2 linked regions of the Homo sapiens genome follow. The protein of the gene in region 1 purifies or fractionates together with the protein of each later gene. This does not show direct contact. Each region holds a gene or a part of one and is shown on either strand. Other genes may lie near its edges.

Evidence for each region.
Region 2: the proteins of MGAT4B (region 1) and SLC26A2 fractionate together in Homo sapiens (co-fractionation; one large-scale study listed by BioGRID). This does not show direct contact.

The regions. Positions count from the first base shown.
Region 1 is NC_000005.10:179,804,597-179,808,504, reverse strand, and holds the start of MGAT4B (alpha-1,3-mannosyl-glycoprotein 4-beta-N-acetylglucosaminyltransferase B), read left to right. Parts: upstream 1-1,638; 5' UTR 1,639-1,921; coding exon 1,922-2,018; exon of another isoform or gene 2,019-2,112; intron 2,113-2,170; exon of another isoform or gene 2,171-3,908. UniProt on the Homo sapiens protein: Glycosyltransferase that catalyzes the transfer of GlcNAc from UDP-GlcNAc to the GlcNAcbeta1-2Manalpha1-3 arm of the core structure of N-linked glycans through a beta1-4 linkage and participates in the production of tri- and tetra-antennary N-linked sugar chains.
Region 2 is NC_000005.10:149,963,730-149,967,537, forward strand, and holds part of SLC26A2 (sulfate transporter), read left to right. Parts: intron 1-3,808. UniProt on the Homo sapiens protein: Sulfate transporter which mediates sulfate uptake into chondrocytes in order to maintain adequate sulfation of proteoglycans which is needed for cartilage development.

The sequences.
Region 1 (3,908 bases):
TCATTAACAATTTCTAAGGCCCTTTATGTCACAACCTAAGTGAAAAGCCATTATCCTTTGCCACAAATAGAAGACACCTGTGAAAACACGACAGTTTCCTCTAGAAGGCTCCTATAAGTCCCAGTCTCTAGTTCGGAAAGTTCCAGGAGCACTGAGTGGGGAGCCCTCTCCTTTAACAGGGGGCCTCAGGATCCAGCCCACTTCAACCTCTGGCTCGGCCACCCCCTTCTTGGCATCAATCTCTCTGTCCAGACCCCTCGAAGCTCCCGATTCCACTCAGCCCCAGGTGTGGGCCGGGGCTGAACTAGGAAGACAAAGCCGCATTCAATCTCAGTCTGAGTCCAGCCCCTCGGGCCTCCCCCGGGCGGGTGGGGCAGAGGTCCCTGCAGCCTCCACCAGGAACCGGGCCCCTAGGTCTGGGAGGTCCAAGCCGGCAGCGGGCCAGGCGCTGCCCAAAGCCTGCCCAGAGGCGGCGCTGGGCCAGTCCCTTTATAATTTGCGCCCTTCCTGGTTCCACAGAGGATTGAGGAACGCCTGAAATTAGAACGCAAATGGGCCGTGCGTGGTGGCTCACGCCTGTAATCCCAGCACTTTGTGAGGCCGAGGCGGGCGGATCACAAGGTCAGGAGTTCGAGACCAGCCTGGCCAATACGGTGAAACCTCGTGTCTACTAAAAATACAAAAATTAGCCAGGTGTGGTGGCGGCCGCCTGTAGTCCCAGCTACTCGGGAGGCTGGGGCAGGGGAATCGCTTGAACCCGGGAGGCGGAGGGTGCAGTGAGCCGAGATTGCGCCACTGCACTGCAGCCTGGGCAACAGAGCGAGACTCCGTCTCAAAAACAAACAAACAAAAAACAACAAAAAACAACAACAACAAAAAAACAATGAAGGCGTGGGCCCCCATCAATATCGGGCTGGGCTGGGCGGGGCGAGGTGGCCCCTACACCACCGGGGGCAGGGCCCGTTGCTCCCGTTAGCGGCGCTCTCGGGCCGCCCCTGCCCCGGGAAGCCGGTACGGTTCTGGGCTGGTCACTGCTCTGCATCCACGAGCATCGGCCCTGATACCGCCTAGAAAGGCCCATCGTTCCCGCCTCCCGGGCCCCTGCGCGCCTCCGTCCAGAGGCCCAGAGGAAGCTCCTGAGCGGGGAAGCGCCCTGGGCGGCAGCGAAGGCAGCGGTCGCTCCCGGCTTCAACCGCCCAGTCCCCCGCGCCACCCAGAGCCCCTCACGCCCGGGAAAGAGCCCCGAGAACGTGCGAATGGGGTCGGGGTCCGCGCGCGGAGGAGATGTTGCTGAGAAGGGTACCGGGGTCCCGGAGCGCCGCCCCCGCCGCCCGCCCCCCGCCCCGGCTGCGGTCGACCTGCACTCCCACTCCAGCCTTACCTGAGGCCGACTCGCACGAGCCCACGCGGGGCTGCGGGAGCCGATCGGGATCCCGGCCGCCGGCCCCCACCCCACCCCCTCGCGGCGCCGGCGACGGCGGTGCTGCGGCCCCTTTAAATCCGGGCCGCCCCGCCCTGCGCCGTCGACTCCGCGGCGGCCCCAGATCCAGGCCCCAGATCCAGGCCGGGCCGCGGCTCTCGCCGCCCAGCCCAGCCCAGCCCGGCCCGGCCCGGCCCTGCCGCGGAGGCGAGGCCGCCAGTGTCCCGCGCCCCTGATATCTGCAGTGAGCCTGATACCTGCCTCTGCCCTTCTGAGCCTGTTCCTCTTCCCTGAGTACAGGGCACAAAGCTTGCGCCCTGAGGGGCGGCCGGCGCGCTCCCTGGCCCGGTCCCCGCCCGGCCCCGGGCCCCCCGCCCCTCCCCGACCCGGGGCCGGGGCCCCTGCCGCCGCCGCCGCCGCCTTCCGACCCCTGCGCCCCGGCCCCGGTCCCCCGGGCCATGCAGCCTCGGCCCCGCGGGCGCCCGCCGCGCACCCGAGGAGATGAGGCTCCGCAATGGCACCTTCCTGACGCTGCTGCTCTTCTGCCTGTGCGCCTTCCTCTCGCTGTCCTGGTACGCGGCACTCAGCGGCCAGAAAGGTGAGCGCGACCCCCGCCCGGCCCGCACCTGGCGCACCTGGGCGTCGGCGGCGGGAGCGGGCCCGGCGGTGGCCGCGGAAGGCGGCCGGAAGCCGACGCAGGCGCCCCTTCCCCGCCCGGGCGGCGCGAGGACGCCCCTCCCACCCTCCCCCACTTGTTTGCTGCTGGAGCCGCGGCGTTCTCCTCGGGCCCGGGCCGCGCCCGTGGGTGCTCCGGACCGGACTCCGCGGGCGCAGCTGTCCCGACGCTGAGCTGGGGACCCGTGGGGTTCTCGGAGAGGGGCAGAGACCCAAGGTCACAGAGGTCCCGGAACGCCAGCCACAGCCACCTGGGCAGGAGCTGGGGCGGCGTGAGGGACACAGGCGCGAGGGCACCCCCCCACCCTGCTGCCTGCTGCCCCGCGCCGGCCTGGGCGACCCCGGCGTGACACCCGGTCCTGGGACTCCCTTCGGCGCCCAGAACGCGTCGGCAGCATCCGGCCTGTGGGAGGGAGGGAGGGAGGGAGGGAGGCGTCCTGAGGCAGCCCGGCCCCTGCTGCCCTGCGCTCCCGTGCGGCCCCAGCCCGTCCTCCGCACCCCGAGCTTCCCGGGCTGGCCCCCGCCCTCCGCGTGCGCCCAGCGCTCTTGCAGGCGGAGGGTGCGGGCCGATCCCCCCGCGCCGCCCCGCTGGCCGGTCTTGGCGATGGTGGGGCCGAGTAGGGCCTGAGCCCTCGGAGGCGCTCTTCCCCCGGCCTGGAGGTTCCGGGAGAGTGGCCTCCTGCCTGCCTGCCTGCTGGAGGCCTAAGCGGGCTGAGTCCAGCTGCCCCTCGGCCTCCCCGCCACCTGCTTCCCTGTTTCCCTGTCCCGGAGCGCCATCCCAGAGAGGCTGCGGAGGAGGGCGAGGGAACCTGGACCCTTCCGGACCCTCCGAGCTCCATCTACCCACGCCGAGCTCTGCCAGCACGCCCGCCTGCCGCACTTGTTCTGCCAGAGCAGAGGCCTGGGCTGGCCTTGGGGCTCCAGGGCCAGAGAGGCATCACCCAGGGACTCTGCGGGGAGCCTGCCTGACACGGGAGGGATGGCTGGGCAGAGGCCGTGCTGGCGGGGTATATTATCAAGGGCAGGCATGGCTGGGGCAGAATTCTCTGTAGGTAGGGTGTGTCACCTGGGGAAGGACATTCTGGGTCCTTGGCAGGGTGACTATAAAAGCACACTGGCATGAAGGCCTAGGTGGGGCCATATCTGAAGGGCTGGGGCATGCTCTTTGAGTCGTGGGTAGAGCCGTGAGCCCTTGCCCTTTGTCCTGAGCCAGTGTGTGCCTCCCGCAGCAGCCACATGCCCGCGGATTGATGTCAGGAGCCACCTCTGCAAGCCTGGCTTACCACAGGGAGCCAGGCTCCAGGACAGCAGAGTGAGGGAGAGGCACTGGCTCCATGGCACCCACTGTGTCTGGGGGGCATCCAGGAGGCTGGCTCTCTGAGGGCCTGGGGAACAGGAGAGCAAAGAAGGGGAGCACTTAGATTCACGAGCCCAGCCCCTAGGGGATAGAAGCCTAAGGATCCTGTGAGGTATGAGTATGGGGTGACATAGGCCTCCCTTGTCGAGGGGCTGTCACTGTTTCTGTGGTGACCCAGTAGTACCAGGTCTTTGGAGGCCTCAAGAGAAGCTGGGAATCTGGGCTCTTATGTGAACCCATCTCGTTGTCACATGTAGAAAATCTGTCTTAAACCCCTGGTGAAACCAGACGTAGCCAGTCGGAGGCCAGATTGGAACCTGGCCTCCACTTTGCAGCCAGCGGGGGTCCAGGAACTTGAGGGAAGGACCCAGGAAGTGGAATCTGCAGGGAAGGAAGGAGGTGGGCAGGGAACCAGAGAGGAAGGGCAGCAGGTGTGGGCATCATCCTGGAAACGCA
Region 2 (3,808 bases), about 30 Mb from region 1:
TTGTTTAACTTTTTTTTTTTTTTTTTTTTTTTTGTGGAGACAAGATCTTGCTATGTTACCCAGGCTGGTCTCGAACTCCTGGCCTCAAAGTGATCTTCCTGCCTTGGCCTCTCAAAGCGCTGGGATTACAGACATGAACCACTGTGCCTGGCCTCTGTTTTATATATTGTATCTAGGAAGGGACCGATTTATATAAGGTGTCATTTGAGGTTGGGCAATGAGCAAAGGCCCCAAGGGCAAAGGCTGCTTGATATTTTCATGGACTGGTGATTGGAACACTAGTGCATAGGAGGAAGCAAGACAGTGGCAGTTTTAGGCTCATGCATAGAAGCTTATACCAATGTTTTTAGACCATATTTGGTAGGAGATAGGGAGCCAGTGCAGATTTTTGGGGAGCATATCCAAATGGTTGACCTCATCTTGCTAATGAATGCTTCTTTTGAAGAAGAGGCATAGTGCTTTAAAAATGTAGGTTCAGGCTGGGCTCTTCCTTTGCTCATGCCTATAATCCCAGCAATTTGGGAGGCCGTGGCAGGCAGATCACTTGAGCTCAGGAGTTCAAGACCAGCCTGGACAACACGGCGAAAACCTGTCTCTACAAAAAATACAAAAAAATAGCTGGGCATGGTGGCGTGCACTTGTGATCCCAGCTACTCAGGATCGCTTGAGCCCAGGAGGTGGAGGTTGCAGTGAGCTGAGATCATGCCACTGCACTCCAGCCTGGGTAACAGAGTGAGACCCCATCTCAAAAATAAAAATAAAAAATAGCCAGGCGTGGTGGCTCACGCCTGTAATCCTAGCACTTTAGGAGGCCGAGGCGGGCGGATCACGAGGTCAGGAGCTCGAGACCATCCTGGCTAACACGGTGAAACTCTGTCTCTACTAAAAATACAAAAAATTAGCCAGGTGTGGTGGCGGGCACCTGTAGTCCCAGCTACTTGGGAGGCTTAGGCAGGAGAATGGCATGAACCCAGGAGGAGGAGCTTGCAGTGAGCCAAGATTGTGCCACTGCACTCCAGCCTGGGCAACAGAGTGAGACTCTGTCTCAAAAATAAAAAATTAAAAAAAAAATGTAGGTTCAATATTAGAGGAAACTGAGTGACCATTATACAGGAACTGTGTACTATTTTTACAGCTTTTCTGCAAGTCCACAGTTATTTCAAAATAAAAATTTTTTTTAAATGTAGGTTCAATAAAGTGTTTAAGGCTGAACTATGCCTGCAACTTTCAAATAGTTGAAAAACAATAATGACAAAACCCATATAAGTATGGAGAGAGAGTGTGTTAACATCTTATGAACTGTAAAATTGCTAAATAGGTGAATTGTTAGTATGGAAGTGTTCCATGTATCATTCTTTCAACTTTTCTGAAGATTTAAAAACAGCTTCAAAATAAGCAATCAAGCGACAGTATACGTTTGAATCAGGCAGGCTTGTTCAAGTCATGATTCCCCTACTTACAAGCTGTGTGTGGCTGGGCGCGGTGGCTCACGCCTGTAATCCCAGCACTTTGGGAGGCCGAGGCAGGCGGATCACAAGGTCTGGAGATGAGACCATCCTGGCCAACATGGTGAAACCCTGTCTCTACTAAAAATACAAAAATTAGCCGGGCATGGTGGCAGGCGCCTGTAGTCCCAGCTACTCAGGTGGCTGAGGCAGGAGAATCGCTTGAACCTGGGAGATGGAGGTTGCAGTGAGCCGAGATCACACCACTGCATTTCAGCCTGGGCAACAGAGCAAGACTCTGTCTCAAAAAAAAAAAAAAAAAAAAAAAGCTGTGTGAAGTATTGGAAAATTATTTCTAAACTACATATTCTAGTCTAGTTTATTTTTATTAAAAATATATTTTTAATTATTTTTTTTTCTTACACTGTAGCTCTTACCAGTCTAGTCTGAGATTTTTCCATATAAGAGAGGAGACTTACTTTGGTTGTTGACTTGTTCACATTAATGCTGGGTTAATGTTAAGACTTCAGGTTTTCCACAAACTTGAGATCTTTAGGTTGTTTTTAGGTCGACTCTAGTTTTCCTGTAATTATCTGATGTATATACACTTACAGAGACTGGCATAGGCAATCTATTAGAGGAAAAAGGTTAGGAGTCAGGATACTTGGGTTCTGGATCCATCTCTGCCTTTAAGTAGCAAATGATTTCACTAATCTGAACCTTTATTTATTTATTTTATTTTATTTTTTGAGACAGAGTCTTGTCTGTCACCTAGGCTAGAGTGCAGTGGCGCAATCTCAACTCACTGCAACCTCTGTCTCCTGGGTTCAAGTGATTCTTGTGCCTCAGCCTCCCAAGTAGCAGGGATTATAGGCATGTGCTACCACGCCTGGCTAATTTTTGGATTTTTAGTAGAGATAGAATTTCACCATGTGGGCCAGGCTGGTCTTGGACTCCTGAGCTCAAGTGATCCGCATGCCTCGGCCTTCCGAAGTGCTGAGATTATAGTTGTAAACCACTGGTACCCAGCTGAACTCTTATTTCTTACCAAAAAATCATGGCGGTTGGATTTCTTGATCTCTGTCTAGCTCTAAAGTCCTGTAATTCAGGAAAACTACCACTTAATGATTTGATCATTTAGTTTGAACTGTCTCATGGTTGGGACAGAGGGTTATGACTTGCCTGGAGTCCAGGGCTCCTGACAACAGGTTACTTTTTCTACTGACCCTCACTGCCTATGGTTTTAGATTGTGTTATGTGTTAAAAGCAGTTACTTAAACACACATACACAAACATGCATATCACACCATATTTACAACAGGTTGTGAAGCTCAGTTTTAAATGGCCTAGATTTCTTAGGAAAATCCCAGTACAGGTTGAGTATCCCTTACCTGAAATGCTTGGGACTGGCAGTGTTTCCAATTTCTGAATTTTTTTTTTTAATATTTGTTTTATACTTACTAGTTGAGCATCTCTAATCTGGAAATCCAAATTGCTCCAGTGAGCATTTCTTTTGAGCATCATGTTGGTGCTCAAAAGTTTCAGATTTTGGTGCATTTTTGATTTTGGATTTTTGAATTAGGGATACTCAACCTGTATCTGATTAATATGTCATCAAATCTATCCAATGAAGCTGTCATATTTTAAAACTAAATATAACTGTTTTTAGAAAAATATTACAAAAAGAAATAAAACCTTGCTTAGATACTTCCTCCCAAAGTTGTGTGTGTCTGGGGACTTAAGAAATACATTTCCCAAGGCTGCGTATCCAGAGTATTGGAACATTCAGTGACGATTTCTTAGGAATTGAAATATAAACTGCAATTGAAAACAAAATGACTTAGCTGGGCACAGCGGCGTGTGTCCATAATACCAGCTAATCTGGAAGCTGAAGTGGGGGATTGTTTGAGGCCAGGAGTTCAAGGCTGCAGTGAACTATGATCATGCCACTGCACTCCAGTCTGAGCAACAGAGTGAGACTGTGTCTCTTAAAGAAAAGAAAAAGAAAATTATGTAACAGGTTATATTCAAGCTACTCTTTTCCCCTTCAGATAAGAATTAGACTTTATAGCTTTATTGTAGTATAATTGACATACAATAAGCTGTACATATTTCAAAGGTACTCTCTCTATATATATACATAAAACTGTCACCACAATCAAGATAGTGAACATATCCATCAATCCCCAAAATCTCCTCATGCCCCTTTGTAATCTCTCTCTCCTACCCCACCTTACTTCCTATCCCGAAATAGCCACTGATTTACTTTCTGTCACTATAAATTAGTATAAACTTTTTTTCTTTCTTTCTTTTGGTGGAGGTGTCAGGAAATGAACTTGAGGACTGATTAGTTTGCATTTTGT